2 separate regions of the Homo sapiens genome follow, and region 2 is linked to region 1. The links come from fine-mapping of genetic effects on gene expression. Tissue or cell type: esophagus mucosa. Region 1 holds a variant in brackets; the other region holds the start of a gene. All regions are shown on one strand. Distances are between the middles of the regions.

Region 1 (16,164 bases):
GTGGAGAGAGAATAAAAACACTGCCTTGAGATTGTGGAGGAAGGTGGTATTTATGATCCCATTGAAAAATTTTAGGTGATTTTTAAAATTTAAAATCTGAATCAAAAAGTACTATCAAAGTGCTTTTGAACAGTGCCCTAGGTAGAGCTCTTCCCTGAAACCATTGCGGGATTGCCTGAGTGATGAAAGGCCATCTTCATTTTCTCTTCTGGGGCAGAAGCACTGAACAGTTCAGCTGTGTTTTTAAATTTGTGGGTTTTTTTCTTTTAATTTCAATTTTATTTGGTGGTGGGTTTCATCTATATTTTCTAGAAGAGAAATTGCCTAGATAACACTCAGGCTAATATAAACTCCCTTTAAATTCTTTTTTTTTTTTTTTTTTTTTTTTTTGAGACGGAGTCTCGCTCTTTTGCCTAGGCTGGAGTGCAGTGGCACAATTTTGGCTCACTGCAACCTCCGCCTCCTGGGTTCAAGTGATTCTCCTGCCCCAGCCTCCCGAGTAGCTGGGACTACAGGTGCCTGCCACCATGCCCAGCTAATTTTTGTATTTTTTGTTAGTAGAGATGGGGCTTTACTGCGTTGGCCAGGCTGGTCTCAAACTCCTGACCTCGTGATCCACCCATCTCAGCCTCCCAAAGTGCTGGGAATATAGGTGTGAGCCACCGTGCCCAGCCAACCCCCTTTAAATTCTAATCAAAGGATCAGGGCAGCAAAAATTTTATTGGTTTGAATAAACTGTAATCAAAAATTGTTTACTGGTTACAAATTTTTTTTTTCTTGAGATGGAGTTTCACTCTTGTTGCCCAGGCTAGAGTGCAATGGCACAATCTCAGCTCACTGCAACCTCCACCTCCCAGGTTCAAGCAATTCTCCTGCCTCAGCCTCCTGAATACCTGGAATTACAGGCATGCACCACCATGGTCAGCTAATTTTGTATTTTTAGTAGAGACGGAGTTTCTCCATGTTGGTCAGGCTGGTCTCGAACTCCCAAGACTTCAGGTGATCCGCCTACCTTGGCCTCCCAAAGTGCTGAGATTACAGGTGTGAGCCACAGCACGTGACCTCTGGTTATAAAATTAATGAGGAAATTATCAGAATGGAGACTATGAAAGTTCAATCTAATCAGGTCCTGATATTAGACACATTGGATTACAGACCACCCTTATGACCTCATTTAACCTTAATTACCTCCTTAAAAGTCCCATTTCCAAGCAGTCACATTGGGGTTAGGTCTTCAACATACAAGATGCGGGAGGAGACACAAATCAGTCCCTAACCCCTGCCTATTAGTATTTTCATTTAGTTCATGACCTTGGAGTATATATTTATATTTTTGTACCACAAGACTAGCATGTGAAATATTCAGTGACTACCATCCTTCAATATACTTTAACGCCAAAACTATCTGGGGAGACAGTAATCCCAGCACTTTGGGAGCCTGAGGTGGGCAGATCATCTGAAGTCAGGGGTTCGAGGCCAGCTTGGCCAACATGGTGAAACCCTGTCTCTACTAAAAGTACAAAAATTAGCCGGGTGTGGTGGTGCAAACCTGTAATCCCAGCTACTCGGGAGGCTGAGGCAGGAGAATCGCTTGAATCTGGGAGGTGGAAGTTGCAGTGAGCCAAGATTGTGCCACTGAACTCCAGCCTGGGTGACAAGGAAGACTCTGTCTCAAAGTAAGCCTGACCAAGAATGATGGTGATTGTCCCCACTCCCAACCCCAATCTATTCTTACTGCTGTAGCCAGAGTGGACTTATACAAACACAAATGAGATCACATCACTCCTCTGTTTAACGTCCCTCAATGACTATGCTATCCTCAAGGAATATGCAGATCCTTACTGCAGCCCGTGAGGCACTGCATGACTTTTTCCTCATGGATTCTCCAACCTCCCGTCTTGGCTCTTCCTCATGTCATTATCTACTCAATGTTCACCTCTCTTGCTCACTGCAGGGTACCCAAGCCTCGTAAGTGCTTGTGAATAACAGAGGTTCACTAAATTTTGTTGCATTATTGAATGATGAGAAAAGAAAAGGCAAAGCCACTTAGAACAGAGCTCTGAAGGGCTCCAAACTTTATGAGTGAGGTGGAGGAGGTATAATAGGCAAGGGATTGTAAGAGGGAGTAGCCAGGAAGGTAGGAAGCAAACCAGAAGGGTGGTGGTGAGGAAGGCAAGAGAAGGTTCTGTTTCACAGAGAGGGAGGAGGTCACAATTTCAGATGTGGAAGGGTCAACGAAGATAAGGATGAAAAATGTTCATCATTTAGCTCTCACATAGAGGGGAACAATACATACTGGGGCGTTTCAGAGAGTGAAGGGTGGAAGGAGGGGGAAGATGAGGAAAAACAACTAATGGGTACTAAAGTTAATACCTGATTGATGAAATCGTCTGTACAACAAACCCCCATGATACAAGCTTACCTATGTGGCAAACCTGCACTTGTACCCCTGAACTTAAAAGTTAAAGAAAAAAAAATTGTTCATCTTAAACTTAGTGACAAGGAGGCCACAGGGGGCTTTATTGAAAGCAGTTTCAAGGGATTGAAAAATGTAGGCAGCAGATTTCAGGGTGAGAACCTTAAGTTTTCGCAGTGTGGTGAGAATGACTCTTCTTCACATGGGGATCAATCTTCAGACCTTAGCCCTACAATTTACTAAGCATGAGCTTCAGCAACATACTTAATCTTTGTATTCTTCATCTGTAACTTGAGAATAATAATGATACCCATCTGCTGCGTTGATGGGAGAATTAGAAATAATGAGTCCCACAGATTTAGCTCAAAGATTCTAAATAAATGGTAACGGTTGTTAAAATTTAGTTAAGCTTTTGCATTTAAATTTACTATTCTGGGCCAGGCACAGTAGCTCATGCCTGTAATTCCAGCACTTTGGGAGGCCGAGACAGGTGGATCATGAAGTCAGGAGTTCGAGACCAGCCTGACCAACATGGTGAAACACCATCTCTACTAAAAATACAAAAATTAGGCCAGGCACGGTGGCTCACGCCTGTAATCCCAGCACTCTGGGAGGCCGAGGCGGGCAGATCACGAGGTCAGGAGATCGAGACCATCCTGACTAACACGGTGAAACCCCGTCTGTATTAAAAATACAAAAAATTAGTCAATTTTTTGTATTTTGTGATGGCAGGCACCTTTAGTCCCAGCTACTCTGGAGGCTGGGACTCTGGAGGTGTGAACCCAGGAGGTGGAGCTTGCAGTGAGCTAAGATCATGCCACTGCACTCCAGCCTGGGCGACAGAGCAAGATTCTGTCTCAAAAATAAATAAATAAATAAAAATAAAATAAAATACAAAAATTAGCCAGGCATGGTGGTGCACTGTAGTTCCAGCTACTTGGGAGGCTGAGGCAGGAGAATCACTTGAACCCAGGAGGTGGAGGTTGCAATGAGCTGAGATCACGCCACTGCACTCCAGCCTGGCAACAGCAAGACTCTGTCTCCAAAACAAACAAACAAAAAAATTTTTATTATTCTGTGAAAATAGACTTAACTAAATCAATAGATGCTGAAGCATTTTTTAAAAAGCATATCAGCTACATTATGATTAAATCAAGTTACTGTCAACTCACTTGCTTTTCAGTTAGGTAAAACTGATAAAAAACAACAATGTGTGTGCATGCACTTCTGTGTGTTTTACAGGAAACATAAAAATTTTAACAGAATGTATATGTATTTCACAAAGAATTTCTAGAATTGTGTCAGTAGATAAATATACAAATGAATCACTAGTGAAATTATAGTGCTGAAACATAATGGACAAAACAAAAATTCTGGTTCTGATTGTAGGCAAAAATGCTTGGACCAGATTAGCACATTGTCATAATTCTTTTCTCTACTTGGAGCTTTTATGGAAGTCATTGGTGGGTAAACTTTTAAATTTCTTCCTCTATGACTTGAAGTAACTTTGATGTGCATCACATAATATTTGATGGAAACATCTATGTTAGGTTACCAAGATGGCAAAATATTTTGTTTAATATCAAAATTCAGCAAGTATAGTCAGCTTATTTTGGAACATTTTTATGTTTTATAGAAGTTTTCCTGGCTGGGCGTGGTGGCCCATGCCTGTAATCCCAGCACTTTGGGAGGCCGAGGTAGGTGGATCACCTGAGGTCAGGAGTTTGTGAGCAGCCTGACTAACATGGTGAAACCCCATGTCTACTAAATACAAAAATATCAGCTGGGCATGGTGGCGCATGCCTGTAATTGGAGCTGCTTGAGAGGCTGAGACAGGAAAATTGCTTGTACCTGGGAGGTGGAGGTTGCAATGAGCCGAAATTGTGCCATTGCACTCTAGCCTGGGCAACAAGAGCAAAACTGTGTCTCAAAAAAAAAAAAAAAAGTTTTCCCTAAAGTTTTACAGAGTGTTAAATGTGAATTGAACTATCAGCAGATGTATTGATAATTTCATCTTCATTTTTGAAGAATAGTTTTACCAGGTATAGAATTTTTGGTTAACAGTTTTTTTTTTCTTTCAGGGTTTTGAGTACATCATCCCACTGCCTTCTGGCCTCCAAGGTTCCACATGAGAAATCAGGTGTTGATCTCATTGACGTTCATTGTATGTGATAAGTCATTTCTTGCTGTTTTCAAGATTCTGCCTTTATTTTGACATTTGACAGTTTGGTTATGACATGTTTAGGCATGTATGTGTTTGAGTTTATATGACTTGGAATTTGTTGAGCTTATTGGATGTGGATATTAATGAGCTTACCAAATTTGGTAAGTTTCCAGCTGTTATTTCTTCAAATATTCTCTCTGTCTTTTCTTTTCTCTCCTTCTGGCACTCCCCAGTGTTTGCGGTTGTTACTGCTTATTGCAGTTGTTTGTTTAGTGACTTTTCTGAACTAAATCCATAAAGCTTGTATTTTTTTTCTTTTGCCACTGAAGTCACAACTATATTGCTTAGTGGTCAGCTGAAGATTAAACAGATATTTTCTTTTATTTTCTTTTCTTTTTTGCGATGGAGTCTCGCTCTGTGGCCCAGGCTGGAATGCAATGGTGTGATCTCAGCTCACCGCAGCCTCCACCTCCCAGGTTCAAGTAATTCTCCTGCCTCAGCCTACTGAGTAGTTGGGATTACAGGCACAGGCCACCACAGCTGGCTAATTTTTGTATTTTTAGTAGAGATGGGGTTTTGCCATGTTGGTCATGCTGGTCTTGAACTTCTGATCTCAGGTGATCCACCCACCTCAGCCTCCCAAAGTGCTGGGATTACAGGCATGAGCCACCGCGCCCAGCCAGGCCAGATTTTTTATTAAATACTCATAGTCTTTGTCAAGGGACTGTGATTGCATGTTGGGGGCATGCTTTCAACACTCAGCCAGGCAGCTTACAATTCTGCCTTAAGCCTTCTTTCCCACATGACAAGGAAAGGATGTGCCACTCACCTTTTTGCTTTGTATCCCAGGTTTGAATACCTTTCCTTAGCACTATCCTCAGTCTGACAACTTTCAGATCATAATCCAGGTGGAAATATAGAGGAAAAAGTAATTATGGTTCAATGTGGCAAGTGAACAGAGCAGTGTGGCACCCTGCTGGCATAAGACATGTCCATGAATATCACTTGCCTGCCAATATACTCTGGAAATAGGGAAATAACAGTGAAGAGATACTCTGAACAAATAGAATTCTAGATGAAACTCATTATACTGTTGCTGCTATATATTGCAGAAACAAGATAGAAAAAGAATAAAAGACTACAAAATAGTGGCTGAGAATCCAAAAGAATCGGGAAGATGAATATCAAAATAAAGCCAGTATTCTTGGCAAGTGGTATAACTTCACATATTATAGTAGCTTAATATCCCATATAGCAGTGGTACCCAGCCTTTTTGGCACCAAGGGACCGGTTTTGTGGAAGACAACGTTTCCATGGACAGGGACTAGGGGGATAGTTTCAGGATGAAACTGTTCCACTTCAGATCATCAGGCATTAGCTAGATTCTCTCCTGCACATGTGCAGTTCACAATAGGGGTGAGAATGTAATGCTGCTGCTGATCTAATGAGAGGCAGAGCTCAGGCAGTAATGCTGGATCACTCGTAGCTCACCTCCTGCTGTGCGGCCCGGTTCCTAACAGGCCACAAACTGGTACCAGTCTGTGCTTGGGGACCCCTGCCGTATAGAATTGGTTATCTGTCACATTTTACAAATTACTCAGAAATGTCACTTGTTAACCTACCAGAAAATAAGATAGACAGAAAATGTCTATCTTAAAGAATTTATGTATTTTCTTCATAAAGCCTACCAAGTTAAGAATTTCCAAAAATTAATTAAGAGACACGTAATAAGGGCCAGACGCGGTAGCTCATGCCTGTAATCCCAGAAGTTTGGAAGGCCGAGGCGGGTGGGTCACCTGAGGTCAGGAGTTCAAGACCAGCCTGGCCAACATGGTGAAACCCTGTCTCTACTAAATATACAAAAAATTAGCTGGGCGTGGTGGCAGGCGCCTGTACTCCCAGCTACTGGAGAGGCTGAGGCAGGAGAATCGCTTGAACCTGGGAGGCGGAGGTCGCAGTGAGCCGGGATCACGCCATTGCACTCCAGCCTGTGCAACAAGAGTGAAACTCCATCTCAAAAAAAAAAAAAAAAAAAAAAGAGAGAGAGACAGGTAATAAGAAGACAATAAGTCTAGTGATAGAGTTTGCATAGTATGTAATTTGTAAAATAATTTAATAAGGACAAGTGAATTATAGACTAGGATTCACACTCTGTGATGATGACATTCTAGAACAGAAACAATACTTTCATCATTAAAACACATCTATCTTTAGGCAAAATGTGTCTGATATTGCCAACATAATCCAAAACTTATACAAGTTGTTTGAAAAGTTATGACTGTTTACAGGCGATACTAGAGATGTACAGCCACTACTTACAGAGAATTTTGAGGTTTTGACATTTTTGCGTTTGTTTATAAGACATGTATCACTAACAGCCACAGAAACTTGACTATGTAATTGTCTTATTAATAAAAATGGAAGCAGGTCTGAGAACCAATTGTTTAATCTGGGAAGTGTTGCCAAGACCCACAGTAGAAGGAAAAAGGGAGCCTGCACTCTTGGTTTTCACAACTAGATGGTGCTGCTCCGCTTTCAAATGGGAAGGACTGCAAAGCCCTTAAAACATCAAGAGTTCTCCTGGAAACAGCCACGTAACTAGCACCTTTTACCTGTGAAGCCCTTGCTGGCCAACTGTTGCTTGCCAGCAGTGTGCATGTTACAGTGTGGGTGATCATTGTGCAAAATCATCTCACGAACACTTATTTCAACTTCTCCAATGTAGTTATTCTGTACGTAGATGCTCCTCCCTGGATATCAATGTTAGGACATGTACAAGAAATAGTAAAATTAACCTAGATGAAACAAGAAAACATCGAATCACACGTTATGGCTTTAAAAATATTACACACATAATCTAGATTCAATTTAAGAGAGTTAGAAAATGCAGATCATCAAAATGACAGTAAAACTACTTATAGCCTTTCAACATAGCTTTGAAAGCAGCAAGACTGGCTAGCCTTGGTGATACTGAAAATCTAGAATACTGAAAGGGACATCAATGCAGTATGTTTTTAACCCTGTTACTCCTTCACATTGCAGCAGTACTGCGGGCTCTGTGACAGTACTTCCCATTGCAGCAGTACTGTGGCCTCTGCGGCAGTACTTAACATAGTGGCAGTACAGTGGCCTCTGTGGCAGGACTTCACATTGTGGCAGTACCGTGGCCTCTGTGGCAGGATTTCACATTGTGGCAGTACCGTGGCCTCTGTGGCAGGACTTCACATTGTGGCAGTACCATGGCCTCTGTGGCAGGACTTCACGTGTGGCAGTACCGTGGCCTCTGTGGCAGTACTTCACGTTGTGGCAGTACTGTGGCCTCTGTGGCAGGACTTCGCATTGTGGCAGTACCGTGGCCTCTGTGGCAGTACTTCACATTGTGGCAGTACCGTGGCCTCTGTGGCAGGACTTCACGTGTGGCAGTACTGTGGCCTCTGTGGCAGTACTTCACGTTGTGGCAGTACCATGGCCTCTGTGGCAGGACTTCACATTGTGGCAGTACCATGGCCTCTGTGGCAGGACTTCATATTGTGGCAGTACCATGGCCTCTGTGGTAGTACTTCACGTTGTGGCAGTACCGTGGCCTCTGTGGCAGGACTTCACATTGTGGCAGTACTGTGGCCTTTGCAGCAGTACTTCATATTGCAGCAGAACTGTGGCTTCTGTGGCAATACTTCATATTGTGGCAGTACTTCATATTGCAGCAGTACCATGGCCTCTGTGGCAATACTTCATATTGTGGCAGTACTTCATATTGCAGCAGAACTGTGGCTTCTGTGAAAATACTTCATATTGTGGCAGTACTTCATATTGCAGCAGTACAGTGGCCT[A/C]TGCAGCAGTACTTCATATTGTGGCAGTACCGTGGCCTCTGTGGCAGTACTTCATATTGCAGCAGTACTGTGGCCTCTGCGGCAGTACTTCATATTGCAGCAGAACCGTGGCTTCTGTGGCAATACTTCATATTGTGGCAGTACTTCATATTGTGGCAGTACCATGGCCTCTGTGGCAGTACTTCATATTGTGGCAGTACTTCATATTGCGGCAGTACCATGGCCTCTGTGGCAGTACTTCATATTGTGGCAGTACCGTGGCCTCTGTGGCAGTACTTCATATTGCAGCAGTACTGTGGCCTCTGCGGCAGTACTTCATATTGTGGCAGAATTGTGGCTTCTGTGGCAATACTTCATATTGTGGCAGTACTTCATATTGCAGCAGTACCATGGCCTCTGTGGCAGTACTTCATATTGTGGCAGGACTGTGGCTTCTGTGGCAGTACTTCATATTGTGGCAGTACTTCATATTGCGGAAGTACCGTGGCCTCTTTGGCAGTACTTCATATTGTGGCAGTACTGTGTCCTCTGTAGCAGTACTTCACATTGCGGCAGTAGCATGGCCTCTGTGGCAATACTTCACATTGTAGCAGTACTGTGGACTCTGCGGCAGTACTTTTTATTGCGGCAGTACTTTTTATTGCAGCAGTACCGTGGCCTCTGTGGCAATACTTCATATTGTGGCAGTATTTTATATTGCGGCAGTACCGTGGCCTCTGTGGCAATACTTCATATTGTGGCAGTATTTTATATTGTGGCAGTACTGTGGCCTCTGTGGCAATACTTCATATTGTGGTGGTACTTGTTATTGCAGCAGTACCGTGGCCTCTGTGGCAATACTTCTTATTGTGGCGGTACTTTATATTGCAGCAATACTGTGACATCTGTGGCAGTACTTCATATTGCAGCAGTATCGTGGCCTCTGTGGCAGTACTACTCTTCCTAGTTTTTTCCCCTTCCCTCTACCTTCAGTACTGGATTGCATCGTGCTGTGATGCACATGTGTTTCACGTTTTAAATCACTGAATTTGGGATAGATTCTACTATCGCTGCTGTCTTACCACCTCTGAGGGCCAGGTGGCAGTCATGATGTGGCTGTCATTCTCTAAGCATGGTAGAGTATTGGCAACATTTGCTGGAAAAAAATCTGAGACTAAGCACTCCTTGTTTTTTCATTTTTAAAATATTTATTTATTTGAAGACAGGGTCTCTGTTATCTTGGATGACACCCTGTCTTCAAATAAATAAATGCTTAAAAAATGAAAAAACAAGGAGTGCTTGGTCTCAGCTTGGAAGTTGAGCCTGCAGTCACAGCTCACTGCAGCTTCAACCTCCCGGGCTCAAGCAATCCTCCCACCTCAGCCTCCCGAGTTGCTGGGACTATAGGCACACACCACCATGCGTAGCTGATTTTTTTTTTCCGTGTTTTGCTGAGACAGGGGTTTTGCCATGTTGCCCAGGCTGCTCTCAAATTCCTGGGCTCAAGCAATTCATCTACCTTGGCTTCCTAAAGTTCTATGATTGCAGGCGTGAGCTACTGTGCCCGGCCTCTCTGTGTTTTTGTAATTCCTAAAAACAAATGGTTCTGAAAGAAGGTGGGAAAGGTGGCAAGGCAAGTGTATTTACCAACATTCTTGAGGCAGGACCAAAAGTATACCAGCACTTCATGATTGCAAAACAGGTTTAAGAGGCCAGCAATAATAGCCTTTAGGTGGATTGTGGATTCTCTTAAATGCATCATCACCAACACTTTAAATGATGCGAAGAATGACTTTTAATTTTTTTTTAAAAAGTAGGTAGTTAGTTATATTTCTGAGACAAAAAGTGGGTCAAGCACCAGCCATCCCTTCATCTGCATAGGGGGCCAGTTCACCCTACCGTTTAATTAGTCACAGACCAAATTTTCATCCAGATAAGGGGTAACCGACAGGGACCTCAAAAGGAGTACTTAAAAGCGAGAAAACTTTGTAATGGGGCCCTTGAGCCGCTTGCTTGGGCCCACTCCCACCCTGCAGAGTGCTTTCTCACTTTCATAAATCCCTGCTGGCCGGGCGTGGTGTCTTACCCCTGTAATTCCAGCACTTTGGGAAGCTGAGGCCGGCAAATTATGAGGTCAGGAGATGAGACCATCCTGGTCAATATGGTGAAAACCCATCTCTACTAAAAATACAAAAATTAGCTGGGTGTGGTGGCGTGCCTGTAGTCCCAGCTACTCAGGAGGCTGAGGCAGGAGAATCGCTTGAGCCTGGGAGGTGGAGATTGCAGTGAGCCGAGATCATGCCACTGCCCTCCAGCCTGGCGACAGAGTGAGACTCTGTGTCAAAAAAATCAATCAATCAATCAATCCCTGCTCTTGCTGCTTCGTTTTTGTGCTTCGTTCCTTTTTTGCTTTGTTTGTGCTGTTTTGTCCAATTCTTTGTTCTAAACGCCAAGGACCTGGACAACTTACTCTCAAGGCCTTCCCTCCAGGAACAATTAGACATTATAGTAAGTGGACATCATGCAAAGTCAGAATTTATGCTAAAAAGTTGTGAACTTTACTCCATAACATATCCATAGTTTTCTTATGTAAAAATCTTGTTTCTCTTCCCCAGATTCTCACATCCTCTCTAAACACTCTCATCCTCAGTGACCTCTTCTACTTCCACATCCACAGTCTCAGTTAGCATCACTAGCTGAAAATCTCTATGCAGGACTTCTTACTGACATATCAACCTGCTTATGAAACCAACCCAATAGTCACATAGATATTTTTTTTTCTTTTCTTTTCTTTTCTTTTTTTTTTGAGACGGAGTCTCGCTCTGTCGCCAGGCTGGGGTGTGGCCAGGTTGGAGTGTAGCGGGGCAATCTCGGCTTACTGCAACCTCCGGCTCCCCTCCTGGGTTCAAGTTATTCTCCTACCTCAGTCTCCTGAGTAGCTAGGACTACAGGCGCCAGCCACCACGCCCGGCTAATATTTTTGTATTTTTAGTAGAGACGCAGTTTCACCATGTTGGCCAGGATGGTCTTTATCTCTTGACCTCGTGATCCGCCCGCCTTGGCCTGTCAGAGTGCTGGGATTACAGGCGTGAGTCACAGCGCCCGGCCCAAAAATTTTTTGAATGAACATAGAAATTCACTTTTCTCGTCTTAGAGCTTAAACCTTACATTGGTTTTATCTGAGTTCCTTCCTCAGGAAATGACCTTCATGGCTCTCAAGAAAGGATCAAAGAACTGAAACTCACCAGATCACAATATCCTGACAATGAGATGCTGGACCTCTCATTCATCATGATTGCTTCCTTGCCCCTTCCTGGTTTCTGTTTTCTTACATATTGTTATGTTATTTTTTATTTTATTTTATTTTTTATTTTTTTGAGATGGGGTCTTGCTCTGTCACCCAGGCTGGAGTGCAGTGGTGCCATCTCGGCTCACTGCAACCGCCGCTTCTCGGGTTAAAGTGATTCTTCCGCACCTTCGCCTCCCAAGCAGCCGGGATTACAGGCGTGAGCCACCATGCCTGGCCATGGCAGTACATCTTGATAGCTCTACCTTGTAAACACATATTGGCTCTGAACACTCCTCAGTGTCTCCACTGCCACAACACGGACCTCCACCATCACTCCCTTACCTGCAGGCCCCAGCAGTGCCTAGGTGGCCTCCTTAGCATGGTTCGTACCCACAGAGCAGCCAGAAGGGATCTGGCCAAAGTCTAAAACAGATCATGTCTGCGTGGCTTGCATCCTTCAGTGGCTTCTCATTATTCTCAGAATAAAGTTAAAGGCCTCTCCATGGGCTGTGAGGTGGGCCAGCACCCTCTCCAACATCGCCTCTGTGTTTCTCTTGTTTACCATATTTTCTCCCCTCCTTTCTGCATCCTAAATGTACCATGCTCAGTTCTGCCTCAGGACCTTCACACTTTCTATTGTTCTCCTTATCCTTTGGTTCGTACTCACTATTTTGATCTTTTCAGTTAGGTCACATTTTCATAAAGAGGTGATAACCCTTTTTTTTTAAGTCCTTTTCTACCATATTACATTGTTTTATCTTTTTCAGAGAATTTGTTGGTGCTTGAAATTTTTCCCATCTGTTTTTTTTTTCTATAGCTCTCTGTTCATCTATCCATTGTGTGTTTATTTCCTGTCTTTGACCCAAATATATGCTCCTTAAGGGCACAGGGCTCTCCTTTTCCTCAGTCTACCTCTTTAATTTTTTTAATTATTTTTCCTTAGAAACAGGGTCTGGAAAACATGCTCTCCCCCACTGCAGGTACCTGTAATCTCAGCTACTTGGGAGGCTGGAGCTGGAGAATTGCTTGAACCCAGGGGACGGAGGTTGCAGTGAGCCGAGATCACGCCACTGCATTCTAGCCTGGGTGACAGAACGAGACTCCGTCTCAAAAGAAAAAAAAAAGAAAGAAAGAAAACGAAGGAAAAAAGGAAAAGGCTGCTGGGCACTGTGGCTCACACCTGTAATCCCAGCACTTTGGGAGGCTGAGGTAGGCGGATCACGAGGTCAGGAGTTCGAGACCAGCCTGGCAAACATGATGAAACCCTGTCTCTAATAAAAATACAAAAAATTAGCTGGACGTGGTGGCAGGCCTCTGTAATCCCAGCTACTCGGGAGGCTGAGGCAGGAGAATTGCTTGAACCTCGGAGGCAGAGGTTGCAGTGAGTCAACATTGCACCACTGCACTCCAGCCCAGGCGACAGTGTGAGACTCCATCTAAAAAAAAAGAAAAGAAAAGAAAAAGGCAAGCCACAGACTGAGAGAGGATATTCACCATACCTGTATTAGACAAAGGACTTGTATAACTTTTTTTTTTTTTTTTTTTTTGAGACAGGGTCTCTTTCATTCTGTCACCCAAGCTCGAGTGCAGTAGTGTCATCATGGCTCACTGTAGCCTCAAACTCCTAGGCTCAAGTGATCCTCGTGCCTCAGCCTCTGGAGTAGCAGGGACTACAAGTGCACACCATTATGCTTGGCTAAATTTCTATTTTTATTTATATTTTTTATGGAGACAGAGTCTTACTGTGCTGCTCAGGCTGGTCTCAAACTTCTGGGCTCAAGCAATCCTCCTGCCTCAGCCTCCCAAAGTGCCAGGATTACAGGTGTGAGCCACCATGCCCAGTCTAAAGATATTTAAATAACTTAAATTCTTTAATAAAAAGAACACAATAGGGAAAACTGGACAAAAGACTTGAATGGAAGATAAGTACATGGCCAGTGAAAATCCTTCACATCATCAGTCATCAGGGAAAAATGCAAACTAGGACCACAAAGGTATACTGCTTCACGCTTGCCATAGTGGCTGAAATGGGAAACTAAATACAGAATGCTGATGAGGATGTAGAACAATTAGAACTCTTTTTTTTTTTTTTTTTTTTTGAGACGGAGTCTCGCTCTGTTGCCCCGGCTGGAGTGCAGTGGCGTGATCTCGGCTCACTGCAAGCTCCGCCTCCCGGGTTCACGCCATTCTCCTGCCTCAGCCTCCCGAGTAGCTGGGCCTACAGGCACCCGCCACCATGCCCGGCTAATTTTTTGTATTTTTAGTAGAGATGGGGTTTCACTGTGTTAGCCAGGATGGTCTCTATCTCCTGACCTCGTGATCCACCCACCTCGGCCTCCCAAAGTGCTGGGATTACAGGCGTGAGCCACCACGCCCGGCCGCAATTAGAACTCTTACCCACTTCTGGTAGCAGTGTAAAGTGGCACAACTACTTTGGAAAAGAGTTTACTATAAAGTTAAACATTTACATACCATCAAATGAGAAAGTTCACTCCTGGCTATTTATCCCAGATATGTCAAAACCTGTGTTCACACTAAGACTTGTTCATGAATGTTCATTTTATGTTAATTCATAAGAGTCCCAAACTACAAACAACCTAAACACCCATCAACAGGTGAGTGTGGTATAAATAAACCATAGTTATCCATACAATGGAGTACTATTCAGCAACATAAAGAAATGAACTACTGATGGCCAGTCGGGGTGGCTCATGCCTGCAATCCAGCACTTTGGGAGGCTGAGGCGGGTGGATCATGAGGTCAAGAGATCGAGACCACCCTGGCCAACATGGCGAAATCCCGTCTCTACTAAAAATACAAAAATTAGCTGGGTGTGGTGGTACGTGCCTGTAGTCCCAGCTACTCAGGAGGCTGAGGCAGGAGAATCGCTTGAGCCCAGGAGGCAGAGGTTGTAGTGAGCCGAGGTCGTGCCACTGCACTCCAGTCTGGTGACAGCAAGACTCCATCTCACCAAAAAAGAAAAAAAAAAAAAAAAGAAGAGCTACTGATACTTGCAATAACATGGATGAACCTTGAAAACACTATATTGAGTTTAACAAAGTGGATACAAATATGATCATACATGTGGTTTTGTTTATAGAAAATGAAAGGTAAAATATTTATAACTACAAAAAGCATATCAGTGGCTGACTGGGGCTGGGGAAGGAGGGAAATTCACAGGTTGATAAAAATATTCTGCGTCATGATTGTGTTGATGGTTACACAGGTGTATACATTTGTCAAAACACAAGAAACTGGACACTTAAAATGGATGTTTTTTGTGTATAATTATACCTCAATAGAGATGATTTACAAATAAAAATTAGGGAATATTCATCCAGAATTGTCATGAGGACATCTGTAAGAGTCTGGCTTTTTAAAATATGTGATAAATGCGGCTGAATTTGAAGCTAACTGAGCCAATGCTTTCTCTCCTTTTGGAGAGAGCAGTCACATTAATTGACTTTCACTTTGATGAAAAGTGAAAAAGGAGGTGGCCTTGGGTTCTGGAAGATGAACGTTCACTGGGCAAAGCGCCAACATTGCTCATTATTCGCAGTGAAGGTTCCAGGGAGTCAGCTTGGCTTTTTGAGCCCAGGAAAGAGATACAATATTAATATTGGGGGTCTCACTGAAGTCTCACTACAAAGGTCCCCCTTCTCACTCACTATTTTCCCTTCTGATAGAATCGAATCATAGGTTCTTATGCGGGAAGAAAGCTCGGAAACTATGTAGTTCAACCTGCAGTTGCCTCACCATGGACATTATCTCTGACTTGTTTTCTCATTTGCCCCTCTCTGAGATCTAAAGAACTCTTGCTCCCTTTTTTTTTCAAATCTTCCAGGAGTCTGGCAAGGGCTTATTTATTGATGTTTCCCTTTTCTTTTCTTACTTTTCTTTCTGTGTTTGTGTGTGTGTGAGTGTGTGTGTGAGTGACAGAGTTTTGCTCTTCTTGCCCAGGCTGGAGTGCAGTGGTGCAGTCTCGGCTCACTGCAGTCTCGGCTCACTGCAACCTCCGCCTCCCGGGTTCAAGCAATTCTCCTGTCTCAACCTTCCAAGTAGCTGGGATTACAGGCATGTGCCAGCACGCCCAGCTAATTTTTGTATTTTTAGTAGAGACGGAGTTTCACCATGTTGGCCAGGCTGGTCTCGAATGCCTGAGCTCAGGCGATCCGCCCACCTTGGCCTCCCAAAGTGCTGGGATTACAGGCATGAGCCACCGCACCTGGCCAGTATTTCCCTTTTCTGAATGCATACGTTGCCCCACTGCTTTGACTTTTGTATCTAAATTTCACCTACCTAAAGTCGAATGTTAAAATTCATTATGCAAAGTCAAGGGAAACTATATTGAAGACACTGATGTAAATCAGGCTTGTTTATTGCCATTTACATAAACACATATATTAGGCGATGTGTAAAGTGTCGATCTCTCTGCAGTGGCCTTGATGATATTCCTGGACTAATTTACTTCCCGGAAGTTTCTTTT
Region 2 (16,157 bases), 28 kb before region 1:
GTCACCACTCTTCATCCTAACCATGCCTGACATGGGACGATGTCCACACCTGTGACTTCACATGACCCCTATGGTCCTGACCCCCTAGATCATCATCTCTAGCCTTGAACACTCCAAGCTCCAGACTTGTATATCCAAATATCTAACAGATATTTTTCAGTATGCCCAAATTTACAATTTTTCCCTTAGAAACCTGTTCCTTTTCCTGTATTCCTCACTTTGCTTAATAGCACTATGCATTCAAGTAACCAGTGTAAGAATCCAGCATTTCATCCTAGGTTCCTCCTCCTCACTCAATGCCCACAGGCATTGAGTTCTGAAAGTCCTACTGTTCTAAATTCTTCACACTTTGGCTCTTTTTTCTCCCACCGCTTACCCATTGCTTCGTCCAGATTCTAAGTAAAAACTCCCAAAATAAGAAAATGCAAATGTAACTTTTTACCAATCAGAAGACTGTCATATGAATCAACAGCAAAATAAGTGTCTTACCTTTGCCCCCATATCCACAAGCTGTGTTGTAAATGTCTTTGAATAATTTTCTGTTCCATTGGATGACCACACTTCAACATAGGCCACTACATCTGAAAACAAGATATGAACATGAAACATACATTTGAAATTCCAGCATCCCCTGCCCAATAGATTTTGTTCTATTTACATTTAAGAGTAAACCGAGGCCGGCACAGTGGCTCACGCCTGTAATCCCAGCACTGTGGGAGGCGGAAGTGGGTGGATCCACGAAGTCAGGGGTTTGAGACCAGCCGGGCCAACATGGTGAAAAACCATCTCTACTAAAAGATACAAAAAATTAGCCGAGCATGGTGGCGGGCACCTGTAATCCCAGCTACTGGGAGGCTGAGGCAGGAGAATCACTTGAACCCGGGAGGCAGAGGTTGCAGTGAGCCGAGATTGCGCCATTGCACTCCAGCCTGGGTGACAGGGCGAGACCCGTTTCAAAAAAAAAAAAAGAAAAAAGTAAAACAAAAATTTACTCTACTGGCCAGGTGTGGTGGCTCATGCTGTAATTGCAGCACTCTGGAAGGCCAAGGCAGTGGGATCACTTGGGCACAGAAGTTTGAGACCAGCCTGGGCAACATAGTGAAACCCTGTCTCTAAAAAAAATTTTGTTTTTAATTAGCCAGGAATGGTGGCGAGTGGCTGTAGTCCCAGCTACTGGGTGGGAAATGGGGGTGGGTAGGGTGGAGAAGCTGAGGTGGGAGAATCCCTAGAGCCCAGGAGGTAGAAGCTGAGTTATGATCGCACCATTGCACTCCAGCCTGGGCAGCAGAGAAAGACCTTGCCTCAAAAATAAGAAAAGTAAATGAAGTTTCTTCTACTGGCTGAACAAAGTAGCTCATGCCTGTAATCCCAGCATTTTGCAAGGTGGAGGCGGGAGGATTGCTTGAGGCTAGGAATTCAAGACCAGCCTAGGCAACATAGTGAGACCCTGGCTCTACAAAAAAATAATAAATTAAAAAATAAAAATAAAAATAACCGGGCGTGGTAGTGCCTGTAGTCCCAAGTTACTCAGGAGGCTGAAGCAGAATTGCTTGAGCTATTATGTGATCACATCACTGCGCTCCAGCCTGGGCAAGAGAGTAAGACTCTGTCTCATAAATAAATTTCTACTGAAAGCCTTTTCAAAATAGCTTCAGTGGAATTTATTAAAATTTTAAGCAAAGAACAACTGTACCCATACAATACATGAGAGTTTACATTTGTAAAATTAGTTGCTTTCCCCAAATTCTTACGCTTAATTTTTCCAGTGCAGAAACCTATTTTCTGTAAAGAGACAGATGGTAAATATTTCAGGCTTTGTGGCCAATACAGTATTTGCCACAACTACTCAACTTCACGGTTGTGGCACAAACATAACCATAGGTAATATATTAACGGGCCGGCCTGTGTTCCAATAAAACTTTATTTATGGAGAAGGAAATGTGAATGTGATATAATTTTTCATTTGACCTTTTTTTAAAATCACTTAAAAATGTAAAAGACATTCTTAGCTCGTAGACCCTTACAAAAACAGGCAGCAGGCTAGATATGGCCTGGGGGGCATAGTGAGTGGACCCCTGTTCTAGTGGATATCCTCTTCTCAAAACCTGATGTTTAAAAGCATTTTCCAGGTGTGCCGTTGGTCAATGATTGGGGGTAACGCTAAAAGAAAACCAGGTTAATTTAACAAAATACTAACATTAGAAAAATAGCCACATCTGATTACAGACTTTGTATAAAGCCTCTAGTCTTTACTTTTGGCTATGAGGTTTTATGACTCCAGGCCCCACAATACAGGCCCCTTTTTTCTCACGGTCAAACTCTACAAGACACGTGTCCGCTATTCCCCTCTCCTGGGCTCTTCCAGGTGCACAGAGGGTGGGACTGCGTGCGGTATCATATACTGGTTAGGACAGCAGCTCCGGTCTAAGGCCCTGTCAGCACTGACTAGCCACACACAGGGAGAGTCACCTAAACGTCCGATGCCTTAGTTTCTGCCTGTAAAATGATATAAGAGAGTTGATAGAGCGGTTAAAAAAATCAGACAATACCATACTAGCCTAAGCACAGCGCCTGGCACACAAAGACTCCGCAGTAAAAGGCGGCTCCTATTATTGGAACAATTAGCATAGAAACTCAACTGCCGCTCCTCCAGGTGGGCCTCAGAGGGGGTCGAACAGGACCAGACCCAGGAGGGCCCCACACCAACTTCCGGAGGGCAGGACTCTGCCTGCCAGTGAGCCCCAGATCCAGGGACTAAGGCAGCAGGGGTGAAAGCAGGTAGGGGGAAAGGCGGGATTTGGGGGACAGGCAGCATGGGGGAGGGAGCAGGCAGCGGGGGATTGAGGGGAACTAGCAGCACGGGGGTTGGGGCACAAGCAGTACGGGGGAGGAAGCAGGCAGTCGGGGGTTTGGGGGGACAGGGAGCACGGGAGACGAAGCAGGCAGCCGGGGGTTTTGGGGGGACAGGCAGCGGGGGAGAGAGCAGGAGCAGGGGGTTTTGGTGGGACAGGCAGCGGGGGAGGAAGGAGGCGGCAGGGGGTCTGGGGGAGACAGGCAGCGAGGGAGGGGCGAGCGGGGCTCCTCCCACGGGATCCCCCGAGTGCGCCCGCGACGAGGGGTGCCGGTCCTCAAACTCCCGCTGCTGGAGCAGGCAGCAGGAAGTACCTCACCTTTCAGGATGGGGGCCGCCATGACAGACGGCGGGATCCGGCCAGCTGGCCTACGCGGTGCTTGCGAGCCTGGCGGCGCGCGCGGGCACTGGGCATGCGCGGGGTGAGCGCGCCGCCGTCACCGCGCTCCGCTGAATCCGCGTTTCCGGGATTTCTCTGTAGGTGAGGCGGGAGGCTGGAGGGAGCTGAGCCCCCGGGGAGGGGGCCCGATTCCGCCTCGCCGCGCCTCTGGCTGCTGGGCCGTGGGTTTTTCTCTTCTCCTGGGAGTAAGGAGGACGACGGCCCCTAACCCCTGAATTAGCCTTCTATTTCCATTAGTGACTTAGAAGCTACCCGGCGCCTCATCTGGGCTCACCTGAGCTGAGGATCAGGAAGGGGAGGGGGCACAGTCATTCCCTCGCGGACGCGGCGGGACCCCAGCGGACGGCTTTGTGCGGACTTTCGGCACCGTTATGCCCCCCTAGCCCGACACCACCTGGGGCTGGCGCGCCACGTTACTGTTCAGGGCCAGACGCACCGCCCTGCCTGCTCCGGGGAGCCGGACCTCCGATCCCGGGGATGGGGGACCCCGAGACCTCAGACCCAACGGAGGGGACTCTGATACCTCAGACCCCACGCGGGGACCCCGAGGCTTCAGACCCCCACAGGGTGACCCCGAGATCTCAGACCCCCGCAGGAGTACCTCCAGACCTCAAATCCCCAGTAAGGGAATGAAAGAGACTTCGGATCCCTGAGGCAGCAAATCCCTGTAGGGGCATCCCAGGACTCAGGTCACCGCGGGGTGAACCCAGACCTCACATTCAGGCAATCCCCAGGACGCCGATCGGCTGGCACTACCCACTGTCCCGGCCACCCCCCCTGGAGCTCAAAGGCTTGGCCCTCCAGCTGCTCCACCCTGCCGGCAACCAGGCTCAAACCTGCAGCCCGCGGATCCCCTGCCCCGGAAGCAACCAGATTCGCGGGAGGTTACCTGACTGATCCAAGGTGATACAGCTGGTAACTGATGGAGATGTTGGTAGTGAAATTCATGTACTTTTAGTTCTTTCTATGGAATCTAGAGGTAGAATACATGTAAAAGAATATCGACTACCGTCTACTCAGGTCTCTGTTTTATCTGTTTATTCATTCACTCTCAGCTTTTAATAGGATCCAATGAGCCCTCTGTGGTTCTGAAGAATTGCCTTGAGTATATGCAGCCTCAAAAAACCCACTTCCTAGGCTCAGTCTTTGATCAATATTTATCATTATCACCAGTTATTGTTCTAATAAACTCTACTCTGGAAATATGGTGTTATGGTTTACTTGGGAGTGTGAGTTCAGGGCATCATTGAAGACTCACGTACTTTTACTGAGAAAGTGACATTGATCTCTGTAGATTTTGAATTAAATGATATGATGAAGTATATAAACCAATTACTTTTGGTCAAGGTGGTAAAAAAAGTTTAGTATTTGATAGATTCTTCATCTCCACGATCACAAATATTTTCTCCTAGGATTTCTTCTAGAAATATTACTGCTTTAGGTTGTATATCAGGTCTAGGTTCTACTTTTTTTTTTTTTTTTCTCCAGGCAGTTTCTCACTCCGTTGCCCAGGCTGGAATGCAGTGGTGTAATCACAGCTCACTGCAGCCTCAACCTACTGGACTCAAAGGATAAGATCTGCTTTTAATTAATTTTTGTATACGGTATGGGATAGGGACCAAAGTTCATTTTTTTGCATGTATACATATCCAAATGTTCCAGCATCATTTATTAAAAAGTTATTTTTGTCTCTACTGCATTTCCTTTGTGCTTACATCAAAATCTGTGTTGCATATGTATGTGTTTCATTTTAGGCTTCCTATTGTGTTCCATTGAGCTATTTGTCTTTTTGCTGCCAGCACCATGCTGTTTTGATTATTGTAGCTATATAAATAAGTGATGAAATCAGATAGTTTATGTCCTACAACTTTATTTTTCAAGGTTATTTTGTATCTTCTAGATTCTTCAGATTTCCTTTTAAATCTTAGAGTCGACTTCTCATTTTGCACAAAAAAATACTGCTGGGATTTTGATTGAGATTGTGTTGACTCTACAGATGAATTTGGGGAGAATTGACATTTTAACCATATTGAATCTTCTGACCCATTAACATTTAGGTCTTTTAAAATTTCTCTGGCCAGACGCAGTGGCTCACGCCTGCCACTTTGGGAGGCCAAGGCGGGCCGATCACAAGGTCAGGAGATTGAGACCATCCTGGCTAACACAGTGAAACCCCATCTCTACTAAAAATACAAAAAATTAGCCGGGCGTGGTGGCATGCGCCTGTAGCCCCAGCTACTTGGAAGGCTGAGGCAGGAGAATGGCATGAACCCGGGAGACAGAGCTTGCAGTGAGCAGAGATCTTGCCACTGCACTCCACCTGGGGCAACAGAGCGAGACTCCATCTCAAAAAAAAAAAATATAACTGTTGTTAGATTTTAACCTAAGTATTTGTTTTTTTATTTTGTTTTTCTTTTTTTCTTCTTTTTTTTTTTTTTTTTTTTTTGAGACAGGATCTCACTCTGTCTCCCAGGCTGAAGTGCAATGGTGTGATCATGGCTCATCTTGAAGCCTCGACCCTCCTGGGATCAAGCTATCCTCCCACCTCAACCTCCTGAGTAGCTGGGACTACAAGTACACATGACCATGCCCAATTCATTTTTTAAATTCTTTGTAGAGGCGGAGTCCCACTATGTTGCCCAGGCTGGTCTTGAACTCCTGGGCTCAAGCAATCCTCCCACCTCAGCTTCCCAAAGTGTAGGGATTACAGGCATGAGCCACTGTGCAAGGTCTTGTGTTTTTTGATAATATCGTAAATGGTGATTTTTTCATTTGTTTCTGATTGTTGCTAATATATGGAAATATAGTTGATATCTGCAATTGATCTCATGTCCTGAAAACTTGCTAAATCTGCTTAATAATTTTTTGTACATTCAAAATGATGTTCTACAGGTAGTCGTATTGTCTATGTTGGAAGGAAAGCTTTTCCTCATTCAATGTCGGTCCTGTGTTTGAAGACCTGCAAATTAACTGATAACAACAGGTTAACAGGAGAAAAGACAAGGTTTAGAGTAACTCACTAAATAGAAATAAAGGTTTATAGATCCACTTAACAAAATGTGTTGGGAGATTTTGGAGTTTCAGTAGGAAGTTGTGGAAGGTTCTTTTGGGCTTTTGGATGCTTATGAGAATGGGCAATCTGTCTCTACAGTAGTGGAATTTACAGGAAACTTCCTCAGAGGGAGGCCAATGGCAGCTGTATTTTCTGGGGGCTCTGCTTTAGTGAAATAAGGGAAGTTCAAATAAAATTTCTTGATGCGTCTTTCTTAGATCAAATATTTTCACAGTAAAATAATCTTTATACCAACTTTTAGGGCCTGAATGGTCCACACATTTCTCCATCTGAAACTTCCCTAGAAATTTCATTAACAAAAAAAAGAAGCTAAGTTGATTGCTGTGGGGAGATGATTTGAGTTAGAAATTGTAAGATGAGAGATCTGTAAAAGGGGGAAAAACATAGATTAGAACAAGGAAACAAAAACAATGATTAATGTTCAGAGCAGACGATAAACCCAGTCTAGAGGGTAAGCCAGTTATGAAATTTTCTAGATGTTGGGCTCCAGCTATCTTTAGTGAGGATGGTAGTGGTAGGTAGTGTTGCCATCATGGTTATTTCCTAGAGCACAGTCTGGAAGATGCAGGTGTTCTGGGGAAATATTTGAAAGACCCACGTGTTGTGATAAGTCTTTTGAAGTTTCTGTCTAGCCATCCAGCTTCAGCTTGCAAGGCTTTGAGAAGGAATCAGTTTTAGTTCTCAGTGACGTCAAGTCAGTAGAGTGGGAGGAAAATTGGAAATACTGATTACTGACAAAATATGTAAGATGGCAGGATCCAGGTTTTGTTTTGTTTTTTGTTTTGTTTGTTTGTTTTTGAGACTGAGTATCACTCTTGTTGCCCAGGCTGGAATGCAGTGGTGCAATCTCGGCTCACTGCAACCTCCACCTCCCAGATTCAAGCGATTCTCCTGCCTCAGCCTCCCAAGTAGCTGGGATTGTGGGCTAATTTTGTATTTGTAGTAGAGATGGGGTTTCTCCATGTTGGTCATGGCTGGTCTCGAACTCCCGACCTCAGGTGATTCCCCGGCCTCGGCCTCCCAGAGTGCTGGGATTACGGGCGTGAGCCACCGTGCCTGACCGGCAGGATCCAGCTTTTAAAGAGGTAAAAAAATTGCTCAAAGACAATGAACAAGACTAGAGTCTGATAACTCACACAACTGGGTTATAGTTTGCCATTGAAACATAAAATTTCTCTGTATAATTACTACCACTGAGATCAAAGATAAACAAAGTAAGATTACTCTTGTTTACAAAATAAGTCTTGTCTCATTAAATTTGGCCTGATCATTTACATAAGTCCAGCAAGAATGATAATTGACCACAGGAGCCTTTTTAGGTTTGCTTGGCTGGAACTTTTATAAGGAATCTCAGATTAGAGTTTTAAGACTACACCTACACAGCCAGGCGTGGTGGGTCACGCCTGTAATCCCAGCACTTTGGGAGGCTGAGGCGGGTGGATCACAAGGTCAGGAGTTCAAGACCATCCTGCCTAACCCGGTGAAACCCCGTCTTTACTAAAAATACAAAAAAATTAGCCGGGCGTAGTGGCGGGTGCCTGTAGTCCCAGCTACTCGGGAGGCTGAGGCAGGAGAATGGCATGAACCTGGGCGGCAGAGTTTGCAGTGAACCGAGATTGCACCACTGCATTCCAGCCTGGGGGACAGAGTGAGACTCCATCTCAAAAAAAAAAAAAAAAAAAAAAAAAAAAGACTACACCTATACTATCTGTAGTTTCAGATAGAGAAATGTGGGGATCCATTCAGACCCTAAAACTGTTGCTCTTCTTGAGGTTTCCAAAACATCTTAAGGCCCTGGGCCTGCGAGTAAGTAACCCATCTTACTCACCTGTAAGCCTGGAACCCTGTAAGTCAGGTAAGGCACCAGGTCAATTATTTCAGCAGAGCTTTGTAAGCATTGGCTCCATCAAGTCAACCTTAGTTTCTTAAAAATGTCTGGTCACGTCTAATTCTGTGCACATCAGTCTCAAATATGACCTTCTAGTCAAAGTCTTGGTAACATAATCAATTTTTCCAAATAATGTCCTTTTTTAAGGAGAACAGATTCTTCTTGAATTTATGCAAACAACTATATTGCCATGAGAATAGGAATATTCAATAAGAATTGACAAATTTTAGAGGAAGCAGGGAGAAAAAGATAAATTTTTCATTTCTACTTATGAAAGTTTATTAAATTGTTATCATTTGTGGATAGCTTAAGAGAAAAGAGAAATCAAAGGATGTATCACAACAGTTTGGGGTTTTCAATTATTTCTCCAGAACACTTGCATCTTCCAGGCTCTGCTCCAGAAAATAACCATGACTCCAACATACCACTACCATCCTCACTAAAGATGGAACCCCACATCTAGAAAACCTCATGACTGGCTTGCCCTCTGGACTTAAAAAAACTGGGTTTATATTCTGCTCTGAACATTAATCATTGTTTTTATTTTGTTTCCTTGTTCTAATCTATGTTTCTTCCCTTATATTCAGGACATAGAACATTCAAGAACCAGCAATGTTTCAAACAAAGGCCATTTAAAAAATCATAACCATTGTTTATCAGTCACCTCAGTTCCATATGATTAATTCTGGCCTTGCTTGATCTTGGATTAGCAGTGTCATGAACCCATCAGCTTTTCAACTAGAGTTCTGGAAATCCTTCCTCAGGGCAGTGGTATGAGATTAAAGTTATTTAAGCAATGTCATCAGAAGCCTGTACCCCACAGTACTGTTACAGGCCTTTCCATGGATCTTAGAGAAACAGTCCTTTTTGTTGAAGATGAAGTATTCTGGCTAATAACTGATCGCTAGAGCTTTCAGGAAAGTACCAGAGTAAAATAATAACTGCGAATGACAAAAAGGCAAAAATGGCCATGGTAAAGATCGGATGAAGGTTTATTTTAATTCTGTTAACAAGGAAAATCAGTTTTTTTGTGGCATACATTTAAAATCATAACTGTAATCATGACTGATAATATTATACCAGGACATATTATGGTTATCAAGGGCATTGACAAATTTCTAGGAACTTTATTCAGTTTCTGAAATAATAACATTTATCCATGCAAATACCACCTAAGGAAGGTTAAGTATCTTTTCTTGACAGTGAGTGCCTCCCGTGCAATTTAACATATTGAATAAACCTAATTAGTTTAACATCTCTCTTTTTACAAAATGAGAGAACAAATATTTTGAGATCTTCTAGGGACCCTTTGGAAAATCTCAAAGTCAGTTCAAAGTTAAAAAAATTTCATTTAGAATTTCATTTGGGGAAGTTGTCAAAAATGCCAAAAGCGTTGAACACTTGATTAAATAGGATCACAGGTCACTGTGAAACAACACTTAATTATCCATTTAATTAAACTGACAATAAAAATAGCCATAGGAGATTCTATGATTGTAAGAAAAAAATAGCTTTTTTTTTAAGGTGAGAAGATTTAGTTGTCTTAAATAATCAAAGACATGATAAAGCACCAGAAATTATTCTAATAAAACACAGTCACTGATTTCTAGGTGGTATTAATGAAAAAAAAATGTTCTTAAAGTTGTTGAAACAGTAAATACTTTTTTTTTTTTTAATTTAAGACAGGAGATTTATTATTACTCAAATCAGTCTCCCCAAGGAGCATCCAGGGATCAGAGTTTTGAAGGATAACTTGCTGGGCCGGGGGCAGCCAGTGAGTCAGGAGTGCTGATTGGTCAGGTTGGAAATGAAATCACAGGGAGTCAAAGCAGTCTTCTTGCGCTGAGTCAGTTACTGGGTGGTGGCCACAAGATCAGATGAGCCCGATTATCCATCTGGGTGGGGCCAGCTGATCCATCAAGTGCAGGGTCTGCAATGTATCTCAAGCGCTGATCTTAGGAGCAGTTTTGGGAGGGTCAGAATCTTCTAGCCTCCAACTGCATGACTCCTAAACCATAGTTTCTAATCTTGTGGCTAATTTATGAGTCCTACAAAGGCAGTCTAGTCCCTAGGCAAGAAGGAGGTTTGTTTTTGGAAAGGACTGTTATTCTCTTGGTTGTAAACTATAAACACTAAGCTAAGTTCCTCCCAAAGTTAGTTCAGCCTATGCCTGGGAAAGAACAAGGACAGCTTGGAGGTTAGAAGCAAGATGGAGTTGGTTAGGTCAGATCTCCTTCACTGTCCCAGTTACAATTTTGCAGTGGCTGTTTCAATCCCTCCCTTTGGTTTTTTTGTTTGTTTGTTTTTGGTGCGATTTTGGCTTACCGCAACCTCCACCTCCCGGGTTCAAGCAATTCTCCTGCCTCAGCCTCCCGAGTACCTGGGACTACAGGCATGCACCACCACGCCTGGCTAATTTGTTGTATTTTTAGTAGAGATGGGGTTTCACCATGTTGGCCAGGCTGGTCTCGAACTCCTGACCTCAAGTGATCCACCTGCCTTGGCCTCCCAAAATGTTGAGATTATAACCATAAGCCACCGCTCCCAGACTCCTTTTGGATTTTATAACACCTTAATCTTAAGGTGTTGGCTAATGAAAATTGAAAAAGGGCGAAGGCTGCTCTAACTTCTTCCTGCCGATCTGAGGCATAGTAGGGGTAGGCGTTAACCCCAAAGTGAGAGAAATGGAACTGCTTTGCAACTGTGTGAGCGTACTCATGCAGGCCTGGCTGGGGTTCCAAGGCTCGCATGGCAAAGGCATTAGTATTAACATCTATAGTTTTAGTACTGCATTTGAGGGAACAGTGACTATCAGGTAGATAATGAATACTAGGGTGAGGAGTGCAATTCCCAGTTTCAAAAGTAAAGATTTGAAAGCATTAGTTTGGGGACTTTTAGCCCACAGAGAATTTAGGATTTAGTCCAAACTGAAGGAAAAATTCAAGAACAGCTAACAAAAGGTGTACTGTAACTTTTGTTTTTTTTTAGATGGAGTGTCACTCTGTTGCCAGGCTGAAGTGTAGTGGCAAGATCTGGGCTCACTGCAACCTCCACCTCGCGGGTTTAAGCAACTCTCCTGCCTCAGTCTCCCAAGTAGCTGGGACTACAGGTGCATGCACACCACCACGCCCAGCTAATTTTTGTATTTTTAGTAGAGATGGGAGTTCTCCATGTTGGCCAGGATGGTATCAATCTCTTGACCTCGTGATCCAACTGCCGTGGCCTCCCAAAGTGCTGGGATTATGGGCATGGGCCACCACGCCCAGCCTATAAGTCTTTTTTAAGTATAATTTTTCTCTTTCCAATCCTCATTTTTTTCTTTTCTTTTTTTTTTTTTTTGAGACAGAGTCTCACTCTGTTGACCAGGCTGGAGTGCAGTGGCGCAATCTCGGCTCACTGCAAGCTCTGCCTCCCGGGTTCACACCATTCTCCTGCCTCAGCCTCCCGAGTAGCTGGGACTACAGGCGCCCGCCACCACGCCCGGTTAATTTTTTGTATTTTTAGTAGAGATGGGGTTTCACCGTTTTAGCCAGGATGGTCTCGATCTGCTGACATCGTGTTCCACCTGCCTCGGCCTCCCAAAGTGCTGGGATTACAGGCGTGAGCTACCGCACCCGGCCCCCCAATCATCATTTTTATTAAAAACAAATAATGATAGGACTGATTGGTTTGCAAAATAAACTTTTATTGTACTTGGCCTGGTTATTTGCATAAAGCACAGCAAAAATAATTATTTTTCATATAGGATTTTTAAATTGGCTTTGATGGAGCTCTGTTCTATAAGGAATCTCAGATAAGACTTTTTAAAAGCTGAGCCCTGCCATGGGTTTATACCGTCAAATACCTATGAGTTAGGTAAATTATTCTTCTCTTGAGGTGCCAAGATAACTTGGGGCTCCTCGGCCTGTTAGAAAGTGCCATTCTTTACTTATCACAGGTCAGAAACCTTATACAGGGACTGTGTAAAGAAAATATGAGGCCAGATTTCCCAAGAGGCTTTTATTGGCTCTGTAAATCAACTTTGATTCCTTAAAGAAAGCATGCCATTCCAGTCAAAGCCTTGGTAAAATAACCAGTTTCTACAATCGTGTCCTGTTACAAAAGAAAACAGATTCTTATCATGCTTATGCAAATGTCTATACTACCATAAATTGAGAATACTCACAAATAGTTCCCAAATTCTGGAGAAGTCAGGTAGAAAGAAATATGCTCCAAATTTTGTTCACAGGAGTATATTTTACCAATTGTTAAAGGCTGTAAATAGCTCAAAAGATAAGTTTTCTTAGTTCTGGATAAGAAAAAGGATCAGCAACATTTTAAGCAAAAAAGTAAAAAAAAAAAAAAAAAGGTTACTTCAGTCTTTTATTAGTTCAGTCCATTCAGTTAACTTTTGTTCTGCTTCATATCCATGAACATTTCAGCTCTCCATGAGAGTCCTGAAAGTTTTTCCCCTTTACACTTGTGTCATCATCATCTCCAAAGTTATCAGAAACTTGCATTCAAGAGTACCTGTCAAAGTTTTATAGCTGATTATAAAACCACCTTCCAAAGTGGATCAAAATGAGACAATTGCCTTGGATGACAAAAATATTTTAGGGCAGCCACAGTTAAAAACACAATTGGGCTGCGTGCAGTGGCTAACGCCTGAAATCCCAGCACTTTGGGAGACTGAGGCAGGCGGGTCACGAGGTCAGGAGATCAAGACCATCCTGGCTAACCCAGTGAAAACCCATCTGTACTAAAAATACAAAAAAATTAGTCGGGCATGGTGGCAGGTGCCTGTAGTCCCAGCTACTTGGGAGGCTGAGGCAGGAAAATGGTGTGAACTCAGGAGGTGGAGCTTGCAGTGAGCCGAGATCACGCCACTGCACTCCAGCCTGGGTGACAGAGCAAGATTCTATCTCAAAAAAAAAAAAAAGAAAAAAAAAATTGACAAGGAAATTTGTTACCTCTGTGACACACAATAATTTAACATAACAATTATAATTATTACTGATAACATATACTGAGGCATATCAAAATTATAGGACTCTTATAATCTTATACAATTTTGTAATACATACTAATAACACATTTATATAAATGTAACCCAAAGAAAATTAAACACTATATTTGACAATGTTTACCGCATGATTTTAGTACTTTAAATAAGCTGAATATGTCTTTTTGGACTTTAGGCAACTTAATTTTTTTTTTAACTTAGAATTTGATCTTGAGAGGTCTGTCAAATATCAAAGGTTTAAAAACACTGGATATCAGAAAATAGAGTCCCAGGTCACTATAAGTTATTCAATAGCCAAAATGATAACTCTAAAATTTTAAAGAAAAACCGTTACTCTGATAAGAGACTTAACTTTCCAAACAACCAGACCCAATGAAGATAGCATGAGTCCCACTGAAGGAAGACTTTATTAAAGACTGTTGAGATAGGGAAGAGAGATTGGGCTCAACTCTGAATTCAGCAAAGACAACTGGGGATTTCTGGCCATTGAACAGAGTGAGAGGTCATTGGATGGAAAATTACAAAAAAGAGACAGCAAGGGTAGGCAGATTCTTACTAGACCAACTGCTGTAGTCTGCATGTTGGTGTCCCCCACAAATTCAGATGTTGAAACCTAACCACCAGTGCAATAGTATTAAGAGGTAGGGTCTCAGTAGTAGTAAGAGGTGGGAAGTGATTAAGTAATGAGGGCTCTGTCCTAATGAATGTGATTTTTGCCCTTAACAAGAAGTTGAGAGAAGTAGTCCTTGTCCCTTCTGCCATGTGAGGACACAGACTTGACCCTTTTCCCTTATAAGGTCACATAGAAGGCACCATCTGTGAAGAACAGGCCTTCACCAGACACTGAATCTGCTGGTGCTTTGCTGTTGGACTTCCTAGCCTCTACAGTTGTGAGAAATAATGTCTGTTGTTTATAAATTTCTCAAACTAACATGTTTTGTTTTAGCAGCTTGTATGGACTTAGATGGAAATTGATAGCAAGAAGTGGGGTGCTGCTGTAAAACAATACCTAAAAATGTAGAAGTGGCTTTGGAATTGTATAATTAGCAGAAGCAGGAAGAACACTGAGGTGCACATTAGAAAAAGCTTGTATTGCTATTGTTGGGTCATAGAAGGCGATTCTCATAAGGCCGAGCGCAGTGGCTCACACCTGTTATCCCAGCACTTTGGGAGGCCGAGGCGGGCAGATCACAAGGTCAGGAGATCGAAACCATCCTGGCTAACACGGTGAAACCCCATCTCTACTAAAAATACAAAAAAATTAGCCAGGCGTGGTGGCAGGTGCCTGTAGTCCCAGCTACTCGGGAGACTGAGACAGGAGAATGACATGAATCCAGGAGGTGGAGCTTGCAGTGAGCCGAGATCGCGCCACAGCACTCCAGCCTAGGTGACAGAGCGAGACTCCGTCTCAAAAAATAAAAAGGCGATTCTCATAAGGGCTCAGAAGAAGAGAACTGTAGAAAAAGCCTCAATCTTCTAAGACATTACTTAAGTGGTTATACTCAGAATGTTGGTAGAAATATGGTCAATAAAGGCAATTCTGATGAGGTATCAGAAATGAGGGGCATGTTATTAGAAACAGGAGGAAAGGCCATCCTTGTTATAAAGTGGCAAAGACCTCAGCTGAATTGTGTTGGGTCCTAATGTTTTGTGAAAGGAGGAACTTAACAAGTAATGAAAGAGGGTATTTGACAGAAGAAATCTTTAAGCAAAGTGCAGCATGGCTTCTCCTGATTGCCTATAGTAAACTGCCAGGAGGGAAACAGATTAAAGACAGAATGTATAATCAATTATTTATATCAATTATGAAGAAAAGCCTCAGTCACTTCACAATGGGGAAACATAGCAGACAGCACCTTTCAAAGGAACCAAACATCACCAGTAAAGGGACAAAGAGTCACCAGCTGCCTCATGATATGAAGCACTGAGAAGCACACATCACTTCTACTTCCAGGGGGTTCCTGCCAAGAATGCAGAACCCAAATGGAATTCCGAGAAATCATCACACAAATCCAAACAGAAGGGCTTTCTACAAAATAACTGGCCTGTATCCTTCAAAAACGTCAAGGTCATGAAAGACAAAGAAATATGAGAAACTGTGGCAGCTTAAGGGAAACTAAAGAGACGTAGCAACTAAGTGCAATGTGTGATTCTGGACTCAATCATGAAACAGAACAAAAAATTAAAAGTATTTTCTTTTTGTTTTTAAATGGAGTCTTGCTCTATCGACGGGCTGGAGTGCAGTGGTGTGATCTCGGCTCACTGCAAGCTCTGTCTCCTGGGTTCACGCCATTCTCCTGCCTCAGCCTCCCGAGTAGCTGGGACTACAGGCGCCTGCCACCACGCCCAGCTAATTTTTTTGTATTTTTTAGTAGAGATGGGGTTTCACCCTGTTAGCCGGGATGGTCTCAATCTCCTGACCTCGTGATCCACCCGCCTCGGCCTCCCAAGTGCTGGGATTACAGGCATGAGCCACTGCGCCCGGCCAAAAGTATTTTCTAGGAGGAATAGTAATGAGACAATTAGCAAAATGTGGAAAATGTCTGTATGTTCAATAGTAGTGTTTTATAAACGTCAGTTCTCTGATTTTGATCATTATAGTGTGGTTACTTACCAGAATGCCTCATTTTAGGATAATACACACTGAGGTATTTAGGGGTAGGTGACATCATGCTTATAACTTCCTCCCAAATATTTTAAGGAAAAATATATGCACACGGACATACATTCATATATGCAATATGATAATGAAGAAGCAATGGTGACATTTGGATCTGGGTGAATGGCTTATGGGAATTCATTTTTGTACTGTTTTGTACATTTTGTACTATTCTTGTGCTTTTGCTATAAGTCTGAAATTCTTTTAAAATAAGAAGGAAATACAATTATGGCAGGAAAATAGCTGACTGGGCCACATTATTAGCCCTAATGGTCCTCACCTCT

The links. PIP is the estimated chance that this variant, and not a neighbour inherited with it, causes the effect.
Region 2: it holds the start of MCPH1-DT, and the variant in region 1 is fine-mapped to the expression of MCPH1-DT in esophagus mucosa (GTEx, PIP above 0.99). The same link has a PIP of 0.9 or more in tibial artery.

What each region holds. Positions count from the first base shown.
Region 1 is chr8:6,365,641-6,381,804 of GRCh38, reverse strand. No RefSeq gene overlaps it. Among named protein-coding and RNA genes, the nearest start is that of MCPH1-DT, 33 kb to the left of the region's middle. The variant A/C (reference allele first, on the strand shown) is at 8,411.
Region 2 is chr8:6,393,703-6,409,859 of GRCh38, reverse strand. MCPH1-DT (MCPH1 divergent transcript) reads left to right here and starts at 3,312. Exons shown (of 2, transcript NR_040040.1): 1 at 3,312-4,154; 2 at 4,740-6,304. It overlaps MCPH1 (microcephalin 1), which reads right to left and starts at 3,233. Exons shown (of 14, transcript NM_024596.5): 1 at 3,171-3,233; 2 at 490-581. The coding sequence starts at 3,192. RefSeq lists silencers at 2,972-3,151, 3,412-3,491, 9,886-10,086.